2 linked regions of the Homo sapiens genome follow. The protein of the gene in region 2 interacts with the protein of the main gene of each other region in a biochemical or structural test. Each region holds a gene or a part of one and is shown on either strand. Other genes may lie near its edges.

Region 1 (11,460 bases), on a different chromosome or scaffold from region 2:
TGTGTATAATCTTATATGCATTCATTAGGAAATGTGATTAAAGAGAAATGAACATTCAATGCAAAAGGGCAAAAAAAAACCATAAAGGAAGTAGAAATTTTATTAAAGATAAAGAGATATCAATGAAATGGAAAATAAGATGCAGTAAAATATATTAATAAAACCAAAAGCTATATCATTTAAAAAATTTTAAAGAAAAGTTATACAAAGCAATGCCAATAAGACTGGAAAATCTACACGGAATAGACTGTTTGTGAAGGGACGTTTTAATGATAATTGACACAAAATAGGTAGCAAACCCAAATAGACAAGTAAACATAGTGAAAAAGTGAAAAGATAATAAACAACTAGGCCCATTCTGTGTTTTTTGCTTTTTTAAAGAGACTGGGTCTCTCCCTCTGTCACCCAGGCTGGAGTGCAGTGGTGCAGTTATAGCTCACTGTAGCCTCGAACTCCTGGGCTCAAGTGATCCTCCTGCTTCACTCTCCCCAAGTAGCTGGGACTGCAGGCACATGACACCACACTGGGCTAATTTAAAAATTTTTTTTAGAGACAGAGTCTTGCTATATTGCCCAGACTGGTCTTGAACTTCTGTCCTCAAGCAATCCTCCTGCCTCAGCCTCCTCAGTAGCTAGCATTACAGCAGGAGTCAACATTCCCTGCCAAGCCCATTCAGTTTTATGTGTGTGTTCTACAAAATATTTCAGGAATAGGGAAGACTGGTATTATGCTAACTGTTCCAGAACATATGAAAAATGGAAAGCTTCTCAATCTATCTATGATACTAGCATACATCTGTTATTAAACCTAGAAAAGGAGAACCCAAGAAATCTATGGGCCAGTGGCAACATATATTACTTTTTAAATAAGGAAACAATATTTCAAACATGATAATACATCTTTTCATGTTGTATGTTATATGTGTGTGTGTTTCCAAAGGGAACAAACTAACTTTGTTTGTTGGTTATTGGGATTCTCCAAAGCCTTGGCCAGGTAGGCAGGTAAATTCACTGAGGATTAAATCTGTGTGCGTGTAAATTTTATGACATTCCGGGACCTCAAGCCTAGCCACAGACCTCAGAAATGTGTATCTCTAGATACAAAGGGAGCAGACAGAGGAAGACAAGTTAGATTTCATCACTTTTTCTAGGAAGACATCTCTATAAGTGGTGGCCCAGTTAGAACCCAGACATCTAGATTGTAAGCACAGAAAAGATACATTCATTTAACTGTTGGAACCATAGAAAGAAAATCATTTTTTTAATGAAAAAAGTATATATCATTATTATGTTACCAAAACACCAGAGGTTCAGTCCAGGTCCTGCTGCTTGCTGCACAGAAGGCCAATCACTGAGACAAGTATTGCCAGAGAAGAAGGTTTTAATCAGGTGCTGCAGCTGAGGAGATGGGAGATCAGTTTCAAATCCATCTCCTTGACCAACTAACGTAAGGGTTTATATAGCAGGGAAGAAATGTAATCATGAGTGGAAAAACAGGAATTAGGGAGGGATAAGGAAGAGGAGTTGGTTAAAAGGAAGCAGATAGGGCAAGGCAATTATGACAGATGAAGGGTCTGACATCTCATTGCCCAAATGCAGTAATCTGGCGAGTTTGAGCTCCTTGACACTATCTGGGAGGCCTGATGGTTGGTTTCCTTAGAAAGGAACTCAGATAAGACAAATGCAACTTTCTCAAGTTTTAAAACTGGGAGGTCAATTTCTATGTTTTTTCAAAGAAACCACTGACATCAGCTCTATGGGACAATTGAGTCAGTTTCAATTGTAGAAAATTTAGAGTATGCAAATAAAAAGAAGAAAATGAAAACCTCTTGGAATTCCACCACTGGTAACACTTTGATGTGTGTCATTCCAGCCTTCTTTGCTGGTGAAAGGGTGTATGTGTATTTGTGTGTTTTACAACAGTGTGAGTAAATCACAAAATTGTTTTGTCGTCTGCTCCCCCTGCCACCAGTATGTCATGAACATCTTTCTGTCTTATTAAATATTCATGTAACTGCCTGTTCCACTATTCCATTATCTGTCTCTCTTATCATTTATGTCACCGAATTCTTATGTTAGAACTATTGATCCCCTCTTTTTTACACTACAGATTATTCATGTAAAAATCTTAGATACAAAATGGTTTTTGTGTATTTCCAAGAAAAACAAAATTAAGCCCTGAGCAACATAAACATTTGAAATGAAGTTCTTTAGTTAGAAACAGGTGTATAATTTTTTAAGACCTCTTGAGGGAAAGGGGAAACCTTTATAGAAAACATTTTTTCATACTGTATGTGTCACTATCTGTGACAGAAATCTCATCTAGAATTGAATGTAGCAAAAAGGAAATTTATAGACAAATGCATCAGTTACCCATTGATCCTGTAATGTGGCAAAACAGTCCACCACAAAACATCAGTGACATACTAAGAAGCATTTATCAAGTGCATAAGTGTGGTGTTTAGCTGATCTCAGCTGGGCTCGCTCATGCCCCGCTGGGCAGTGGCTGGTTGGCTAGGCAGTTCTGCTGACTTTGGCTGGGCTTGCTCACACATCTTGGGGCGGCTTGCCTGTTGGCTAGGACAACTTGGTTCTATTTTATATTTCTCATCTTGCATCAGGCTAGATTGGGAATATTCTAATTACTATGGTAGAGGAAAATGAGCAAGAGAGTAAACACATGTGTTGCTTAAGGCGTCTGCTTACTTCACATTTGTTATCACCTTACTGGACAAATAAAGTCACATGACTGAACCTAGCATCACATTGGGAAAACACTGCCAAGACATATATAAAAAAAGGAGTAAAGGATTGAGACCTTTAATGCAATCAGTCACCTGGCATATGTAACTAAAATGGCCAGGGAACAGATGTATAGATGATAGATGATGGTAACTTCTATGATTCCTGGATCTGGAGTATGAAGTGATGTCACCTGGTTTGGTTTCACACTCTTTGAAGTTTAGCTGTGGTTCCCTTTGTATTGTCTCCACCCTCAGGGAGGCCCTTTCCACATTGAAGTACTCACAGCTCTATCTTGAAAGTAAGGAATTCCAGCTGAAGAAGAGCTTATCTTTCCCAGCTGTTCCAACTAGAGTCCTAGTATGGAGTCTTGTTGGACCAATGTGGGTCACATGCCCATCACTAAACTAGCTACCATGTCTGGAGGATACAATATGGTGGTTGGCCAGGCGTGGGTCATGTTCTCACCCCTTGCACCATCCAGGATGGTGGAGTGAAGGGAGTCAACCTTATCTAAACCCAGTGAACTGTGAGTAGGGGGTTGGGAACAATTTCTCTAAGGAAAATAGTGACAGTATAATCAGAAAGTGTGTATTTGGGAGAGGGGGAAGGGATGAATGATAGGCAGGTGAAAATAAAAGATACCCATGTATACTGCTATTAATGTACTTATCTCATTGAGACACTTACCTTCAAAATCTATTTATTGACTATTTGGTACTAGGCACAAAACTAGGTGTTTTATAAACCTCATCTTACTATTTCTTACAATACTATGAGTTAGATGGTACTACCTGCATTTTGTTGATTGCAGAGTGGAAGCTCATAACAAGTTAAATAATTTGTCTAAGGTTACTCAGCTGGTTAGTATTAGCATGGACATTTGAACCTGTTTGCCTTTCTCAAATCTGTTCTTTTATTGTTGTAAAGCTGAAGGAAAAGAAAATACAGTAAAGACTTTCTAAGAGGAAGAACAGGAGGCCATAATGTGCCCCATTAAGGCCATATGGGTGCTAAAATTGAAGGGATACTCACAATGCTGTAGCCCCAGCTACATAAAATCTTCACTAGTATACTTCAGTAACCGTGATGGGAACTTCTTCTCCTTTGCCATTTCTGTACAGACATGAAGTGGTTAATATGAATATTAAGGTCAACCAAAATGGGAAATAATTCTCAAGAGGCCAGCCTGAAAGATGTGTGTGAAAGGGAAAAGAGACAGGACTGTTGTTTTCTCTGGTAATATCATTGAGGATCTGGCTATGTGTTTAGGCATCCCATTGGTTGAGCTACCTCTTTTTCTTCTATCTCCAGGATAGCCAGTAGGTTTGAATTCATGTGTTAATACCAGTTGATTGGTGGTAAGCCATCTAGAGTGTTGTGTTGAGAAGAATTCTGAACCTAGTGGAAAAGAAGACTGTGATGGATTAGTGATGTCTGTAATGAGTACAGGAGGGGAAGGTAACAACATGAATGCCAAATATTTGACATCCCAGGAATCAGCAGCTTCTCAGAGTCACTTTCAAGTCACATGCATATAGGGGTTATGCCCCAAAGGAGGGGCCTTTTTATAGCTAAGGTCTCCATGATGGGCAATTCCATGGGGAATTTTCTAGAGGTTCTAACTCTAACCTTAGCACAAACCAATATAGAGAGCTTCATTTTCTTAAAGAATAGAGCTTATTTTTCACTTTGAGAATTTTTATCTTGCTTAGGGGCAGGGTGGGGGGAATTTGTAAAACTTTCACCTGTAGTAGTAAAGTTCTAGAGTTGCTTTTCTTTATAAATCAACATTATGGGTGTGGCTCTTTCTATCTGTCTATTATTAATCACCTATCTACATAGGTACATCTATCATTATCTTTATATATTTAAAAATACAATGCAGTTAGAGTTCTAAAGAAATTTGTTTTTAATTATTCTTTTTTTCACTTTGTAGATCTCTGAGTGGAGTTATTTTCTGGTACGGACTGTGAAAAGAATGCGGTGAAAATTCTGGACAATCGTGGAAATATTAGCTCAAACCCCAACTTAATATAGCATTTCTTCTCTTCAGTAACACCTCATAATACAAGAAAAATGTATGGAAGTGCAAGAACAATCACCAATCTGGAAGGTAGCCCTTCCAGATCCCCTCGTTTGCCAAGGTCTCCTCGTTTGGGCCACCGAAGAACAAGTAGTGGGGGAGGTGGAGGAACAGGCAAGACTCTGTCTATGGAGAATATCCAGTCCCTCAATGCAGCCTATGCTACGTCTGGACCCATGTATCTGAGTGATCATGAAGGGGTGGCTTCAACAACCTACCCAAAGGGCACTATGACTCTGGGAAGGGCTACAAATCGAGCTGTATATGGAGGCCGTGTCACAGCCATGGGGAGTAGTCCCAATATTGCTTCTGCTGGACTTTCCCACACAGATGTCCTTTCATACACAGATCAACATGGTGGGCTGACTGGCTCATCCCATCATCACCACCACCAGGTCCCCTCCATGTTGAGGCAGGTAAGAGACAGCACAATGTTAGATCTTCAGGCCCAGCTGAAAGAACTGCAGAGAGAGAATGACCTCCTCCGGAAAGAGCTAGACATCAAGGACAGCAAATTGGGATCTTCCATGAACAGTATTAAGACTTTCTGGAGTCCTGAGCTTAAGAAGGAGAGAGTCTTGAGGAAAGAAGAGGCAGCGCGGATGTCTGTCCTCAAGGAGCAGATGAGGGTTTCCCATGAAGAAAATCAGGTAGGTCATGACTCATCTCAGTATTTTTCAGCCTTGGCTTCTCACTGAGTAGTTGATGCTTTGCAGATGGTACCACGACCTGTGCAGAAGAAAGTTTGGCATCATCAAGAAGGTTATGGCTTAGTATGTGTTTGACTTAGACACTATGAGAGAGCATAGGAAATATACCATTACAGCTTGTAATTTCCTTATTTTCCGATAACCTTTTCACATGGTTGCAGATGGGGAGAGGGGTGGGGTGGGGAGGATCACTTGTCATTGCCTAACTTTTGTACTTGGTTAATTTTGTTTTCTTTTTCAGCAGTTGCAACAGCTGTTCAGATGTACCTCCTTCTGAATAGAAGAAGAAAATGTTAATTTCTGTAAGAATAAAGACTTTAAGAGCAACATTTAGTGGGCCACATTTGACTGGTGAATTGATTTTTATTTTGAAGCACCAGCACCATTATTTCCCACTAGAATGAGTGAAGTTGTTCTCTAAGTAGCAGATTGAACAATATGAAATGGAATTGGATCAAATGGGTTTGTTATGTTAGAGATACACAATAAATTTTTAACTTGGTGTTTTTGCCTTCATCCATTCAGCATTAATTAACTATCTACTATATGTAAGTCACCTTCATACTCTTCTTTGATCCATCCTTCATGCCACAGGAAAAACAGGTTCCTGGTGTCTACCTGCAGTTATGCTATTTTCCTGCTTTAAAGCCCTCAGTGATTACTCATTGCCTCCAGAATAAAGTCTACCTTCTTGACTGAGCCCATAGCACTTCTACTAGAAGGCCTGGGCCAACATTTCCAGCCTTATCTTGTGCTGCCTCCCTCCACATCTGTGCTTTCTGTACCACTGCCTGGTAATTCCTGCACACACCCAAGGTTTTGCACTGCCATGCCCTTGCTCTTGCTGCTCCCTTCCACTGGTGGCCTTCTCAGCACCTGCTTTTCCTGCCACCTCCCTTTAAATCTCAGCCAGTCTTCATTTCCAAATCCCACCTATTCTGTGAGGCCTGTTTTATATGCTGCTATTTTCTTTTCTTTTCTTTTTTAATGCCTACTTTATTTCCTAAAATGCTGCTATTTTTATAAGCGCTTTGGAATCAGACATACCTGGGTTTAAATTCCAGCTTCATCTCTTGCTCTCTCTCTCTCTCTCTCTCTTTTTTTTTTTTTTTAAGAGACAGGGTCTTGCTGTTGCTCAGGCTGGAGTGTAGTGACGTTGATCATAGCTCACTGCAGCCTTGACTTCCCGGCTCAAATGATCCTCCACACCTCAGCTTTCTGAGTAGCTGGGACTACGGGCACATATCACCACAGCCTGCCGATTAAAATTATTTTTTTTTGTAGAGACAAGGTCTTGCTATTTTGCCAAGGCCGGTCTTGAACTCCTGGCTTCAAGGAGTAATTCCAAAGTTCTAGGATTGCACACCTGGCCCCAGCTTCATCTCTAATTGGTGCTTATAGAAGTGCTAAGAGCTGGGGCATAGGGAATGTGATACCACGTGGCTCAAAAATTCCCAGATATTATTTAACTTTCTGAAGGAAATTGAGATAACTCTAAGTTGACTGAACAAGTGATTTTCCAATAACTGGCTTTGATGTTGGTCTAACGAAGTGCTCTGCCTTTCTTGGAGTCACCTGCTGACCCTCCTAACTGTTTCCCTGGCTACCACTCCTTTGGAGTTTAAGCGCCTGTAGAAGCATTTGTGATCTATAGGAAAATCTGCCTTTTGTTTTCATTCTATGTGTAGAAAACAATCACCTTATCCTTTTGATTATCTAACAGAGCCAAAGCTAGTTTTCAGACGTAGAAATGTGATTTTGTAGTTGGAACCGAAAGGTTTGTTCTTCACTCTAAAATGATGCTCTTCGGTATCATTTCTGCTTCTTTCTGATTTTGCTGGTTCATGAAGTCTTTATGAACCTGTTTGTACAATGCACATTTCCCCCCAGTTTTATACTGGTTTTCTCTTCATTTTAATTTTTTGGAAAATGGTTAAAGCAGTTTAGGAATGGTGCAAGCAGGGACAAAAAGTTTGAAAGCTCTTCTTTAAACTGTTAGCTCCAAAGTGACTTATCTCATGCTTCTTTCATTAAGTTTATCTTTGAGCACAGACCCCAATTATACATGTATATTTATTTATAAATTACAGGATGCATTACACTGCCAGTGTATTATGTGTCTTTTATGACATCCACGAAGAATTAAATGTGGATGAGATAGAGCAAAATAATACATTGAGATACATTTTAGTGACATATAAAACCTTTTCCACTTTTATTAAAAACATTTCGAACCATTTGTCCATTTCATGAGGGTTAGTTCAGTTTAGAATAGGTGATATCCATAATTCCACTTAACCGTCTCAGGTTGCCATAAGCCAGGAGTGTGTGAATGCTTGAGGGCACTTCCATTATCCCTTCCTTGTTCTGGTCTTACTGTGATCACAGGATACCTTGGTATCATAGGTGAAATGTGACTGTGTGACATATGACTCAGTGAAAGCTCTAGTATTAATCTGTATATTTAATACAAGTAAAATGCAATTTTCTCTTTTAGATTAAAAAGTGTAAAATGAGGAAGAAGCGCAGAGATTTTGAAAAGTCAATTTACTTGCAATATGATGTCTTACAAAGTAAAAAATATAAAGATTGACAAAAAACAAGCTATTAAAAAAACTGTCTTCTCTTTTTGGAAGTATATTAGGATCCCTTTTAGAAGTATAGGAGTACCTGTTGGTCAGGATAGGGTAAGTTTTGCTGCAGTAACTAACAAACTTCAAATCTCAGTGGATTAACATATTTGAGATTTATTTCTAATTTGCTTAAAGTAAGAAGCAGGTCAGGTGACTCTGTGGGACGGGTCTTTTCCATGCAGTGACTCAGGATCCAGGATTTCTGCATCCTGATGCATGGCTTCAAACGTTGCCACAGCAGGGGAGGAGAGTGACTGGAGATGGCACATTGGTTCTTTAATTCCTTGAACTGAAAGTGACATAATTGAAGGGAGTGTGAGGTGGAGTCCTCTCTTCTGTCCAGGAAAGGGAGGAGAGACACATATATGGTGGATTACTACCAGTGGGGTTTTTATGTTTTTCCAAAAATGGAGCTAGGTGAAATAAAGTTTGGGGAGCAATCTTCTGCTATTGCTGTTGTTTCTATTATACTGCTAGTGCTACCAGTAGACATTTGTTGAGGGCCAACTGTGTGCTAGGCATTGTGCTTAGTGCTTTGTGTACATTATCTTATTTAGTGATTTCATCAGTCATCTGAGGTAGGTGCTAGAACTTTTCTTATTTTACAGATGAAGCATAAATGTAGAGAGAATAAGCAACTTATCCAAGTTCACACAGTTGGTAAGCAGCATAGCTAGGTCTTAAGGCATTGGTCTATTTCATGCCAAAGTCTAAGATCTTAACTTTATGATCACTACCTCCTTAAAAGATCACTGAGCTGTGATTTAGTATTATAGGAAGATCCTACTTCATACATGCTAGATGAAAAAATGACTAGTTTTGATAAGATGATTAAGAATGTGATTTATTATCATTATTGTTATTATTTTGAGACAGGGTTTCACTCTGTCACCTAGGCTGGAGTGCAGTGGTGCGATACTGGCTCACTGCAGCCTTGACCTCCTGGGCTCAATCGCTCCTCCCACCTCAGCCTCCCTAGTAGCTGGGACTACAGGTGTGTGTCACCATGTCTGGCTAATTTTTGTACTTTTTTGTAGAGATGGAGTCTCCCTATATTGCCCAGGCTGGTCTTGAACTCCTAGGCTCAAGTGATCCTCCCACCTCAGCCTCCCAAAGTGCAGTGTTATCTTGGTACTGTCACTTGTGCTTTTGCCTCATGATGTGTTTTCTTAAAATGGAGGACAGTGGGGCAAGGGATTATGGACATCTAACTCTTTGGAGTGGCATGATTACAGGCGTGAGCCACTGTACCTGGCCAGAATTTGTATTCTTAACTAGGAATTTATTTCTTTTTCCTAGAGATGGTTTTTGTGCTGTTTAGGGTTTTCACCATTTACCATAACTTAATTTCCTTTTAAAGGAAAAATCATGGAAACTTTTTCTATATGGAAGAAAGAAATACAAAAGGGATAAGGGACATTTGATTGTGGTTTCTTATCCACAATAATCAGAGATTGCATCTATCAAGGTAATTCTTTCAGGGGTATTTAGATATTTAGAATTTCACTAACCTAAGTTCTAATGATCTAAAACAATTTGAACTGTTCTGTGTGAAGAGAAATTGGAAGCAGGTCCATTACAGGGTAGAGGTAAGGAGATTGAAATGCTCTTGTATAGGAAGTTCATAGTTTTATAAATATAATGCTAACTAACCCAGCCCTTTCCTTCTTATATGCAGCGTTGTCGAGGGCTCCTGCTCATCAGTTTCTTGGCAGTAGATTTTGAAGTCCTCATGGTTCTGTCTAAGGGAGCTGAACCCAACTCCAGATCTAAGGGAGGATGCTGAACTCCCTCTCTGTGTTACAGGGAGTGCAGGACTATTTGGAACCTTGGAGCTAATGAGTAGGTGGCCGTGACCAAATTTCTTATGTGCAAAGGGTTGACACTCAGTTTCTTGGATGGATATGCCACCCCTTCCTCCATTCCCACTTCTCCTCCACCCAGTTCCCTCCAAGGCCCTACTTCTCAGCCACGCGGCTCTACATGAATATAAATACATTTGCTCTACTACTAAGAGTTGCAGCACTGAAATTTAGAATCATGTGCTTGTTTGTATAAACCAGAGTGCACGGATGCAGTGTTATCTTGGTGTATAAACCAGGGTGCACAGATGCAGTGTTATCTTGGTGCTGTCACTTGTGCTTTTGCTTCATGATATATTTTCTTAAATTGGAGGAGAGTGGGGCAAGGGATTATGGACAGCTGATTCTTTGGAATGCCATGAACCCATAGCCCATGCTCTCAATGTCACACCTGTAGAACAGTTGGGGGAGGGATGAGGAGAAAGTATTGAGAAAGGATGTTCTGCTGCCATACTACACTGTTACGCGAGGTAGCCCCTTATTATTTTTAGTGGCCTGTGCTGTTGGGATAGGTGTTATGGGGGGCAGGGCTGATGAGAGGGTGGATACAACTGTTGGGAAGTAAAGTGAACCTATTTTCTCTAAAAGAATATAGGTTTATCTTTTCTTTATATCTTTATTCTATTGTGTTACGGAGATCAAAGAGAGGAAACATAGGAGTGAATACATCTTTTTAAGGTTTATAAAAACTTCTGTGTTGTAGTTTGGTACATAAGAGTTACTGACTTTTCATATTCCTCGGTATTTTGTGCAATTGTTAACGTTGTATTTCTAACGGATTTCTTCCAAATTAGGTACACATAAAGCAATTTTTAGACATTTTCCTAGGTTGTGCATGGCTAGCCAAGGCTCTGCATGAATATAAATAGCACCACACACTCGGAGATTGTACTAGATCTAATATTTACCCATCTTGCGTGTGCAGAAGTGGGACAAGGTCATTGGGAAACGTAACCCAAGAAGTGTAAGTAAACCTGTCTGGGGAATGTTACAGCTTTTAAACAATGGTTATGTGATCATTTCTATTTTTGGCTTAACACATTAGGAAAGAATCTACTCTAAATCAATATTAATATGAGTTTTTGATCCAGTTTCAACATAGGATTTATTGATTCTTATTTTGAACATGAAATTTGAAAAGATCGAGATGGATCACATTTCTGTGTTTCCTTTATTATTACTGCTTTGTTTTATTTGTATAACTGCAAATAATTCTTTTCTCCCCTCCCTCCCTCCCTCCCTTCCTTCCTTCCTTTCTGCCTTCTTTCTTTTTTTGAGACTGAGTCTCACTCTGCTGCCCAGGCTGGAGTGCAGTGGTGTAATCTCGGTTCACTGCAACCTCTACCTCCTGGGTTCAGGGAATCCTCCTGCCTCAGCCTCCCGAGTAGCTGGGACTACAGGTGTGTACCAGCACGCGCGGCTGATTTT
Region 2 (11,460 bases):
GAGAAAGAAAAAGAGGCACCTTCAGACTGTGACTCCCCCATCGGACTGAGGATTTCTTAAGGGCAGAGTGAATCTTCCCCTGAGACTAGGAGTTCCCTCTTTCTCCATCTATATCTTCTAATACCCCAGTGCTCTAAATGATATTTAGAGGACCTGGATTCAGGACAGAGCATGACGAATAATTGCACTTTCCCAAAAGATCAAACTCGGCATTTTTCTGCCCCATATCTTTCCTCATTCTCCCCTAATCTCCCTAGGCAGACTCAGACAGCATGAACTCACAGCTGCTTCTCGGAAAACTCCAGGTGCCATCCCAAGGGCCAGTTAACCTGTCATCCCTCCCTCGTCTCCGCCATGAACCACAGCTTTTGTTCCAGAAAGTCTGCCAATTCCATCTTACCCGTGAAGCTCCCCCACCCCCCACGCCCGACCACCAGATACACACGCCTGCACGCCCAGGCACACGCACACACACTTCAGTGGGGCCTCAGGGACTGTTGGCTGCCTGCCAGCCCCCACCTCTTGCCCACCAGGAGGCCAAGGCAAGCGGGGGGGGGGGCACAGCTGTTGCAGCTGACGATGGCCTCAACCCCAGGGCTGCAGCTGTCATTGACACGGGAGGGAAGGGGAAGGATTTGCCCCACACACCAGCCGTCTGCGTAACTGGAGCCAGGCACGCGGCCGAATTGACCCCAAACTCCCTGAGGAGATCCCTCCACCCCCTCACCTTGGCAGACTCTTCCCTCAATGCCGAGTAGCGGCGATGCACGCCTGGGGGTGCGTGTGTGGTTGTGCCCAGGGAGAACCGCACGTCTGCTGCACTGCCCATGTGCGACCTTGAGCGGTGATGGGGGAGAGAAAAGACAGGCCCTGAGGACTGAGACCCCCAGCTCACACCCAGTGGGCCCAAAGAGTCAAGGGATCTTCAGCTCAGAGAAGAGACATCTTAGCAGGACACAGAGCTGTCACAAATGTCTGAAGGGCTGCCGTGTAAGCAAGAGAGCAGACGTATGCCCTGGTGCTCCAGGGGTCAGAATGAGCCAGGGGAGAAAGTTCCAGAGAGCGGTTTTCCGTCTGGCATAAGAAGGATCTTCTAATGGCAAGAGTTGGCTTACGATGCAACTGGTGGCTTTTAAAAAGTTGAGCTCCCCATCAAAGAGGTATTCGAGCAGAGGCTCTCCGGCCATCTGACACACGTGGCGCAGGAGGGCTCCAGGCACTGGGAGATGTTGGAAGGGATGATGTCTAGAGGCCCTTTTCACTCTGAGGGTCTTTGTTTTTTGGTCTTCTACCCAGCACTTTTCCTCGGGTCTCCCCATAATCTGGACTGAGTCCCTGGTTAAAATTCAAGCCAGGCATACCCCTATGCCTAGGAAGCTTTAGGAGGCCCTAACACTGTCAGAAACACAAGCCAGAGAAAATACTTTGCCCCAAGAGTCTATTCCAACCCTGAGATTTTAGGACCCAAGCAACAATCCCCTGGAATATCTGGAAGCCTCCCCTAGTGATACTTCCTCCCTGTGCCTTCCTACTTGGAACCCTTGAGGGAGTCCAGAGTGAAGGGACACAGTGAGCCTACAACAGACCATACGAGGTCACTGGAGGGAGAGGGAAGTTCCTGCATGTTCCCCTTTTCTCCCTGCAACTCAGCCCCAATTCCACGATGAATCCAATGATTCTATAGTCGAACCCAAGCATTCCCAACCATTAAGAAAAAAAAAAAAAGCCAAGCAGTGGCAAATGGCTTGGTGTACTGTGGGCCGTATTTTACTAATTGAGGGGTTGTCTCTTCTGGTCAGGATGGGAGAAGTAGGAGAAATGCCAACTACTGTTGCCTGTCTCCATCCTCTGCTTCCCTTCATACCCATATACAATAATTCCTGGCGAGCGTGGAGATGGCACTTAAGTCTCTACCACCCCAGACACCCGTGGGCTTCTCTTCTTCAAGCTCAACATCCCCTTCCCTATTTCAACCACTGCCCCTCCACACATATCTATATGGATATTTCCATTAACCTTTCTTCATGGTAGTTCATCTCCATTTCCCTGATACAGCAAGCACATGACCAAAGGGAACGGCAAGGGTTCTGATCTAAGAGACTTTGGTTTGGAGAGAAAACAGCCAAGAGCCATGAACCTTGAGTGGCACCATCCATTTCAGTCTCCCCTGTCTTCACCCCACCTCTCTGGCCTGGGTACTGAGGACAGGCTCGAGGTCTGAATTCAATACCCATCGCTCCACAAAATGTGGGGGAAATCCCGAGGTTCCCTAAACATGGGCCTAATTCAAGCATTAGGAGATAAGCTCCATCTCTCACAATGGTTTCAAGAAAAGGGATGCCAAGTCCATAGGATTGCCATGGCGTCTCAACTTCCAGTAAGGAAGTTTCTGATGCTTCATTCCAATCTCTCCTGCTGCCTTTCTGCCCGCTGCCTGAACTCAGGTGGTCCTTGACTCTCAAGAGAACTGGAGTGAATGGCTCTCCCTACCAGTGGGCCCTGTAGGACATGGCTAAGCAAGGGATGTGCAGGCCTCTCTCAGGGGTGTGCCCTCTGTCAAGGAAGCAGAAATCATGGCCTATGTCCTACCACAGCGGGGACAGAGCACTGGCTGTCTGATGACTCGCCTCTCAGCAGCCCTCGGAGGACAGGTGTTCCCTCCCAAACTGCCCAAGTAAGCTGGGTGACTCTGACCAAGTTATCTGAGCCTCAGTGTCCCACCCTGAACAGGAGGAGGACCCTGAGGTCCTGGGCAGTCTTTTGTTGGAAGGAAGTCTCCTTCCTCACGGTCCATCAGGACCCCGTCCTGGCATGCCCAGCCTCTGGCGCTGCAGTACCTGGAGTGGACGCCATCCACAAACGGCCCCCCTCGGCCCTTCAGCTGGTCCACCTCTTGGCGCAGCTTCTCAATCTCTTCAGACAGGCGGCCCTGTGCCAGCAGACCCGGGGTGGGGGCGGGAGTGGGGGCCAGGGAGGGGCAGAGAGGGAGGGTGGGAGTCAGAGAGGGACAAAGAGGACAGCAGAGTTGGGGAGAAGCTGAAGAATGTACTGCAAAGTCCAAAGCCAGGGGCCCCAGGCCAGGCCCACAGATGACACCAAAAGAGAAGAGGTCCAACCAGAGAGTGAGTGGAAGGATGGGCAGGGGCAGGGCCAGGAGGGGGTCTGTCTGGGGAGGGCTCTGCTAGCCTAGGCCTGCCGACCCCTCACTACTGCACAGATGCACAGCAGATGAGGCTGGGCAGCAGAGGGCCCCAGCACCCCCTCAGACCTCACAGACATTGCCGAGGCCAGGACGGAGGCAAATCCTCCCAGAATCACCAGGCTCTGGCTGCACCAGGGTTTGAAGCTCCCTCCAAATCCTGGGGTGGAGCCCCTCACTGGGCCCTGCCTCTCTGCTGTCCACCTCTGCCCTATGCTTCTGGCCTCAGTTTCTTCTTTCCCTGTGGGCAGTAATGCACCTACCATGATGGGCTCTAGTGAGAAATCACGGAATAATGTATGTAGTGCACTAACATATGCACTAACACTGCCAGGTATCAGAGCAGCAGCGTTAAAAGCAGGGTGTCCTTTCCTCCCTGCAACCCGGCCCTCCCAGGCTGGGCGGGGCTGGCCGCAGCCGGGTACCTTGTGGTGGTGCTGCTCCTCAATCTGCCGCTGGGAGCTCTCCAACTCCTGGATCAACGTGTTCTGGGGGAGAGCAGCTGTGAGCCAGGCCCCTGCCTTCCTCTCCCATTCCAGACCTGAGCCTCTGGGTGTGCAGTCTCAGCCCCACCTCTCCAGGCTGGCCACCCACCCCATTGAGACCCCGCCTGCGCCCATCACAGTCCCGCCTCCCCCCGCCCCACACCCAGCACTAACCTCTCGCATCCCAACCCCGCCCCTCTGGGCACCTTCTCCTCCAGGGCAGCCATGCGCTCCTTCAGGTGGAGCTGCAGACGCTCGTTGGACTCGCTGAGCAGCCGGTCCACTGTGTCCGACAGCCGCTTGTTGTGGTCCTCATTCATCTTTTCCCGCTGGCGCACCTGCACAGCCGTCTGCCTCGCACCAGGCCGCCCTCCCAGGGAGGACCACCCTCTCCTGCTGGGGTTTGACTCCCTCCCCTGTCCTCTTCTCATCCTCTGGGAGCCACTCTCTCCAGTCTCCTGACCACCTCCCCCTTCACCTGCCAGCCTCCTCCCACTCTCTGTGGCTGTGTCCCTGGCCAGGCCCTTCCTCCGTGCCCCTTCCACAGACCGCCCTGGGAGCCTGTCCTGCGGGAAGGAGGGGGCCTGAGGGCCCGGCCTGGTGCCCTCACCCGTGCCAGCTCCTGGTTCTTCTCCTCCAGCTGTCCCTCCAGCTGCCGCAGGTGCTCCTCAATGTTGCCATGCCGTTCTTCAGCCTAGGGGCAGGGATGGGTCGGTGCAGCCCGCAGATCTCTGTTCTTCCTGCTCAGGCCCCGCATCCCCTGCACCCTGGTGCCAGGGTGGCCCTGGGGATCATGGCCCCCAGTACCAGTGACGCTCAGCCTCCACTTATCATCTTGGAGCAGGACCACCATCCCCATTGCCTTTCTTCCCAGGTACTTCAATACCTGCCAGGTCTCCCCTGCCTCCTCCTCGCTCAGGCCTAGCCTTAAAACATCCTGAAGCTAGCAGTTCAAGAGACTGTAAATAATCCCCATGCTTCCAGAAAAAGCTCCACTTGAAAGCATGAGCTACCATAAACCTCTACGCCTCCAGATGGATAGAACCACACTGAAGAGCATGGGCTCATGCCACACCGCCTGGGTTCAAATCCTGGCTCCCTCTTACCACCTGTGTGACCTTAGACAAGTTACCAAACCTCTATGTGCCTTCGTTTCCACAACTGTAAAATGTGGGTAATAATAGCACCCAGGCCCACTGGACCATCACAAAGACTAAATGAAATAATCCAAGGCGAACACTGAGAACATAGTAAGCACTCAACAAATGTTAGCCCCGCATGGTTACGGCTCTGCTGTTAAACCAGCCCAGGTGGGGTAGTCTCCCTTTCCAGTCATGGATGTCCAGAGATGGAGACCCTACTGTCTCTGCTGGCAAGATATTCTAGAAAGCCACATCTCTTATAGTCAGGAAATCCTTCCTTAAACTCCTCCTGCGATGACTCACTTGACTGTATTAATCATTTCAGCCCGTGCCTTCATGTCAGCTTTGGGAGACACTAAGGCTGACTGCTCAGCAGCCCACACATAACATCCTCTGCTGTGATTTCAACCCAATCCTTCATTCCTCGAGGCTGGAAAGACCTCCGAGACCATCCCGTCTAACTCCAACATAGTGATAAGGACACTGAGGCCCAGTTAAGGGAGGGGATGACTTTTCCCAGGTCGCAGAGACAGTCAGTGGCAGAAGCAGTCTTGGTCCTGGGTCTGCTGGGACACAGCCAGGCTGCAGGTTCCGTCCTCGAAGCAGCTGAGCTGCACACTGGCCGGCCAGCCTCTCCCTTCCGAGCACTGTGCCTGGTGCTTCCTAAACACCGGTTTTCTTCTCGCCACGGGTTCGAAGATCCCATATGAGGCTGACCAGCTGAAAACGCTCCTAAATTATTTTGATTAACCCCTGCATGTCTAAATCCAGGCATTTACCTGGCTCTTCCAGAACCTATTATGTTTTCAGCCAGCACACCTCTCAGGAATTACTACTTCATAAAGTATCCATTAAATAAAATTGTATTCTTTTTTCTTCATCCTAAAACTGCAGCCTTCAAACAACCAGGAGCAGTCCCTAGATCTAGAAGCTTCAATTTGGCAATCAAAGATGTACTCAACCTAACTCTCACCCCTTTGCCCTTCAGGGATATATATACCATTTCTCTTCTAAGGTTTCACCTTTCCAGAGATGAAAGTCCTAATCTTTCTGCTCCAGCCCCAAGTGAAAGAAAGTGTTCACCACGACGGTGTAGAGGATTAAAAAAAAAAAAAAAGAAAAAGAAAAACACTTTGCATCAACATAGCTTCTTCTCCTTCAAGTACTTTTACACCCCTTCTTATGAGACTGTCACATCCCTGCAGGGTGATGAGGACAGGGATTACTCTTCCAACTGACAGGCACAAGGCAGTGTGCTCCCTGGAATCACACGGCGGGAAGCAGTTTTCTGGCTCCTGGCCCAGTGCGCCTCCCACGCGCTCCCTTCCCTGCCTGGCTCCCTGAGAGCTCAGAACATGGGGGACAGAGGCAGATCCCAGGCCCCTGGCCCACTTGCCTTGGTGAGGGCTGCAATTCTCTGGGCCAGCTCAGCCTCCACCTCTGGCAGCGTCTCTGCCTTGCGCATCGTCTGCTGCAGCTTCTGCTCTGCCACCTCCAGCAGCTCCTGCAGGTGTCGGGCCTTCTCCTCACACTAGCAATGTGGGGGTGGTGAAGTGATTCAAAAGGGAGCACTGAAGCCCCCACCCCCACCCCAGCCTCAGCAGAGAGCAGATGACAGGTCAGAAGCAGCAAGGGACAATCTTGGTTGTTGGCTGCCCGAGACGCCTGACTTCCCCTTTCAAAGGGTGACCTGCAGGACCCCAGGGGCTCCTCAGCCATCACCAGTAGGTTCACGAGGACACCTCCAGGGCTAAGTACAATGCCCATCCCCACCCCACCCTGAGGAGGTACCTGGCGGTGCAGGGACTCCTTGTTGGCCAGCTCATTCTCCAGCTTGTCATTGAGGTCATGGATGGATGTTGCCTCACGCTGAGCAGCCAGGTAGCGCTTCTCCAGTGTAGTAATCCGCTCTTCCATGTCCTCCTTCTGGGCCAGAGCCTGGGAGAAGAGGGGACAAGAAGGACGGTAACCAGCCTTTCCTTGCCCCCATCCTGTCTACACCTCCCCACCCACACCTGGCTGATTGGAACCCATTAAGGGGCATGAGCTACACTCTCCTGTCAGTTTCTGGCTTTGGCCCACCCCTTCCATGACCGCCCCCCAACAATGGAGCCAGGCAAGGAGGCAGGTGTTCAGTCTCACGCCCCAGAGCCTTTGCCTGGCTCTCCCTCCACACGCTCCACAATGAGGTCACAGAGCAGGCCTGCGCCCTCACGCACCTCCCGGAGGTCCCGCTGATGCTTGCTGCTCAGCTCCTCCGACTTGATGAGGTCCCGGCGGGCCGTGCCCAGGTCCTCCTCGAGTTCAGTCACGGTTGTTGTTAGGGTGACCAGTCGCTCCCGGGCCTGGCTCAACTCAAAGTTCTGCTTCTCCAGGAGCTCCTGCAGCTCCTCTACCCGGCCCGTATCCTCCTCCAGGGATAGGGACAGTAGCTCTGTGAGTCACAGCAGCATCCCACCCACCCCACTCCCCTATCCCAGGGGTGGAAGGAGGAACAGCACACCCAGAGCAGGTCAAGGCTCTGCCCCCAACATCACAGCACTCCTCTGGCTACAACTGCCTCCCTCTGGGCCCCAGGAGGTCACTCCTGACAATGACCAAACACCTTGCTATCCTTTGTCTCTCTTGAAAACAAGTTTCTAGTTTTATCTGCTATGCCAGCCTCTTGTAACCCAGAAAGGGGCGTGACTGGGGGAACAAAGGTTCAGACAGAGAAGGAATCTTGCCTGATGCTGCCACATGAGGCAGATGGTGCCTAACAATTCAAGCAGACAAGCGTATGATGTGCCCAGCATGTGTTGGGCACTAAAATAAAAATCTACAGATTTCATTGCAGATGGGGTAGGGAGAAGAAGAAAAGAGAAGGGGGAATATCAGAGAAAGCCTCAAATTTAATTCAAGCAGTTAGTCTACTGAACTAAGGCAGAGCCGGGCCTCCAACCTCCCACCTTGGGGAACACATGACCCCTGCTACACAGCTCTCCATGACCTACCTTCCACAGGCGTTTCGGCCCCAGCTCCACAGTCCCCTCCTCTTCTGCCGCTCCATCCCGCACCCCTGCCCCCTGCTGCAGGGCAGACACCTGTAGGGCACAAGCCCCAGGGCAATGAGTCAAAGAGAAGAGAACCTCCCATACATTCCAGACCCTTCCAAAGCCCCTGTCTTAGTTAAAAAATGTCTCCTAGAAAGAGGTGCTCAGCCTAGCCTTGCCTAGCAGCTTCCAGCCATGGCAGGGAGAAATCTGACAAGAAACAGAGTAGGGCACAGGGGTGAACCAGCCTGGACTTCCAGGAGCTGCAGACTGAGGGTGAGCAGGCAGATTACCTGCTGGTGGGCACCTGCCAGCTGCTCCTCCAAGGTGGTGACTCGCTCCAGCGCTGCCCGGAGCCGCTCTCGCACCTGCTCGAGGTAAGGGGAGATGGAGGAAGAAAGGGGGACCCCACTTGAGTCAGGCTGGAAGAGACTGGGCTTGGTCTACCACCACTGAGCATGAGGACAGTGAAGGGCCTACTAAGCAGCACATTTGCAGGAGGGAGCCTAACAGGAGGACCTTGAAGTTAAGACAATGTTTGGAGGGAGCCAGTGCTCCCTAAATACCGGATGTGGAAATCTCAGAGAAGGGATACATGGGAGGCTCCAGGGCAGCCTGGCTGGATGTGGGGGCTGGCGGGCAGGTGGGCACCTTCTCATCCAGGGCCTTGTGGTGCTCAAACAGTGACTTGAGGGCCTTCAGCACCTCCACCTCACTGGAGACCCCCGAAGGTGACTGGGCCTGGCGCTTCACCACAGTCATCCGCAGTGACCGTTCATGGCGGGACACCAGGCACTCCAGATGTTCCAGAAGCAGCTGGCAGGGAGAGCAGGGGAGGGTGAGAGGGAGGGCTGTAAGCATGTGCCCCAGGGGCTACAAGCAGGGTCCATGTGATCCCCGAGCAGACATGAGTTACAGCCACCCCACTGTGAAAACACTGAAATACTTCCAAATGGGCACAGAGCTCCCGCCCCAACTGATACTACTCAAGGTGACTGCCCCGGCCTCTCCCCAGGACCCTGAGCTTTCTGTGAACCAGCAACTACAGGTGGAGAGCCCAGCACTGGTGGTTAAACGATGTAACTCTCACCCCAGGATGGGAGACAGGAAGAGGGAAGGATGGGGCTTGAGCTAGGACTGTGCCTGGCCCCACTCTTGCCTGCTCTCTTGGTCAAGGTGTTCACAACACACCCCCATACACACACACACACACGTGCGCGCGCGCGACACAAGGTCATCCCCACTTACCCGTGTGTTATTCCGTTCTGCTTTCAGTTCTGATATCTCTTCCTCCCGCTCTAGAAGCTGCTCCCGACACATGCTCAGCTCCCGGGTTAAGGTGGCAAATTCCTGAAAACCCCCAAGGCCCCTCAGTGCTTCAGGATTCACCCCCAAAGCAGTGTCCTGCACATGCAAGTCAGTGGTGGGATCCTCTCACCCATCCCTTACTTCCACCACCTCCCCCACAAAATCCCAATCCATCCACACTGCAGGTCAGTAAACCTGTAGCTAGCATGTGCTTCTCCAGAGGGGTCCACATCTCTGGGTCCTCCATGCATTCCATGTGTTAGAATCCAAGGGAACAGAGTTGTACACAAGAGTGAGAAAGTCACTGAGTCTGCTCTGCAGACCCTTCCCCATCCAGCCACCAATATGACCAGATTACATCCTCCCTCCCACCTGGCATTTCCATTTCTCCAGGAATTCAATGACATTTTCCTTTAGAAACTGATGGAGGGGAATTCTGCTTCTGGTTTGGTGGATTAAGGTCCAAACAGAAACTGATGGATATGAAAGAGGGAAGAGAAGGCCCAGCACAGTGACTCACGCCTGTAATCCCAACACTTTGGGAGGCTGAGCCGGGCAGATCACCTGAGGTCAGGAGTTTGAGACCAGTCTGGCCAACATGGTGAAACCCTGTCTCGACTAAAAATACAAAAATTAGTCAGACGTGGTGGCGCACACCTGGGTAATTCCAGCTACTCCAGAGGCTGAGGCAGGAGAATCACTTGAACCCGGGAGGCGGAGGTTGCAGTGAGCTGAGGTGGCACCACTGCACTCCAGCCTGGGCGACAGGGTGAGCCTCCGTCTCGAAAAATAAAAATAAATAAATAAAAGAAACAGGGAAGAGAAAGAGCTTTTGAAGATAATGCCTGCATGAGTGCCCCAGGGAGCTCTTCCAGCCCCATCCCAAGGCTTTGCAAACTGCAAGTAGCGGGTGAAATAAGCAGATCAAAGGACCTACCTACATAGGAGCAAGAGAGTATGCAGACCTGCCCAGTCAGGCTTTCTAGGAGCCCTGCTCAACCAAGCAAGGGCTACATCCCAGCTCCTGATGCCAAGGCAGTTGCCCTGGCTTTACCAAATATCCATGTACCAAGTATCACTTCTAGAGGGGCCCATTTCCACACTGTCAGGCCCAGATAACTTCAGAGACCTTGCCAGCCCACCCTCCCCCATCAGGACAAGCATACAGGGGTGAGAGACTGCTCCCACATTCCAGGCTCATCATATCCTGTTTAGCTAAACATCACCTCCTTCCAGGGAGGTTTTCAAATGAGTGGCCCCAACTCTGTGGATGTCCAAGGTCTAAGAGCGATGCAACAGGCCTCATCCCTGTCCTAACCTGCAGCCTCCCTCACACACCAAGGATTCATGACCAAAGGAAGAACTCCCAATCCCCTCTCATCACTCCAGATAGGGCAAAAGGGGCTAGAAGGGTTGTGGGAGGGCAGAAGGGACAAGAGATGCCAGAGCATGAGAAACCATGAACCTCTGACATTATTACTCAATTACTGCCTTTCTGTCAGGGCCATGGCCAAAGGTGGTCAAGGTCAAGCATCTCATACTCCAGAAGCCCAGGCCTGATGCTGTCTCACCCCTCAGCTTATGCACAAACACAGTCACACTTTCACAGGCACACACAGTCATGTACACATGCTTGTAACCAGAGACAGGGCTTGACAGCCTGCCACCCAGCCCTACACCATGACACCACCACCAAAAGGCTGGTGCTGCCCCCTCTCCTGGCCTCAAGCTCAGCAGCTGTCTTATCTCCCCCCACCACAGGATACCTGTCCCCTCCCTTCCACCTCTAACCTATCTGACACCCTGCTGTCTACAAATCTCCCAAAGCACAATGCTGTCTACAAACACAGGAGACGGTCTCCTCTGTCACCCAGGCTGGAGTGCAGTGACTCAATTTCAACTCACTGCAGCCTGGACCTCCTGGGCTCAGGCGATCCTCCCACCTCAGCCCCACGAGTAGCTGGCAGCATAGGCATTTGCCACCATGCCCAGCTAATTTTGGGGATTTTTGTAGAGATGAGGTTTTGCCACATTGCCCAGGCTGATCTTGAACTTCTGACCTCAAGCAGTCCATCCACCTCAGCCTCCTGAAGTGCTGGGATTACAGGAGTGAGGCACTGCACCCAGCCTACAAATACAAACTTCTTATCCTGGTTTTCAAACTTCTCTCTCATGTCATTTCCATATCACCTAAGACCCAGTCAACCTGGATCACCTGCTGCTTCTAAACACCAGCATGCCTTCCTAATATCACATCTTGGCTCAGTGGACTCCCTCCCCCTGGAAAAACCTCT

What was found.
Region 1: the proteins of PPFIA4 (region 2) and ERC2 form a complex in vitro, tested with the Homo sapiens proteins (one study listed by BioGRID).

The regions. Positions count from the first base shown.
Region 1 is NC_000003.12:56,428,368-56,439,827, reverse strand, and holds part of ERC2 (ERC protein 2), read left to right. Parts: intron 1-3,535; exon of another isoform or gene 3,536-3,671; intron 3,672-3,776; exon of another isoform or gene 3,777-3,858; intron 3,859-4,680; 5' UTR 4,681-4,820; coding exon 4,821-5,477; intron 5,478-11,460. UniProt on the Homo sapiens protein: Thought to be involved in the organization of the cytomatrix at the nerve terminals active zone (CAZ) which regulates neurotransmitter release. Seems to act together with BSN. May recruit liprin-alpha proteins to the CAZ.
Region 2 is NC_000001.11:203,041,145-203,052,604, reverse strand, and holds part of PPFIA4 (liprin-alpha-4), read right to left. Parts: intron 9,209-11,460; coding exon 9,107-9,208; intron 8,675-9,106; coding exon 8,510-8,674; intron 8,227-8,509; coding exon 8,152-8,226; intron 7,910-8,151; coding exon 7,820-7,909; intron 7,238-7,819; coding exon 7,046-7,237; intron 6,765-7,045; coding exon 6,618-6,764; intron 6,358-6,617; coding exon 6,223-6,357; intron 4,379-6,222; coding exon 4,295-4,378; intron 4,023-4,294; coding exon 3,891-4,022; intron 3,688-3,890; coding exon 3,625-3,687; intron 2,930-3,624; coding exon 2,838-2,929; intron 837-2,837; coding exon 728-836; intron 1-727. UniProt on the Homo sapiens protein: May regulate the disassembly of focal adhesions. May localize receptor-like tyrosine phosphatases type 2A at specific sites on the plasma membrane, possibly regulating their interaction with the extracellular environment and their association with substrates.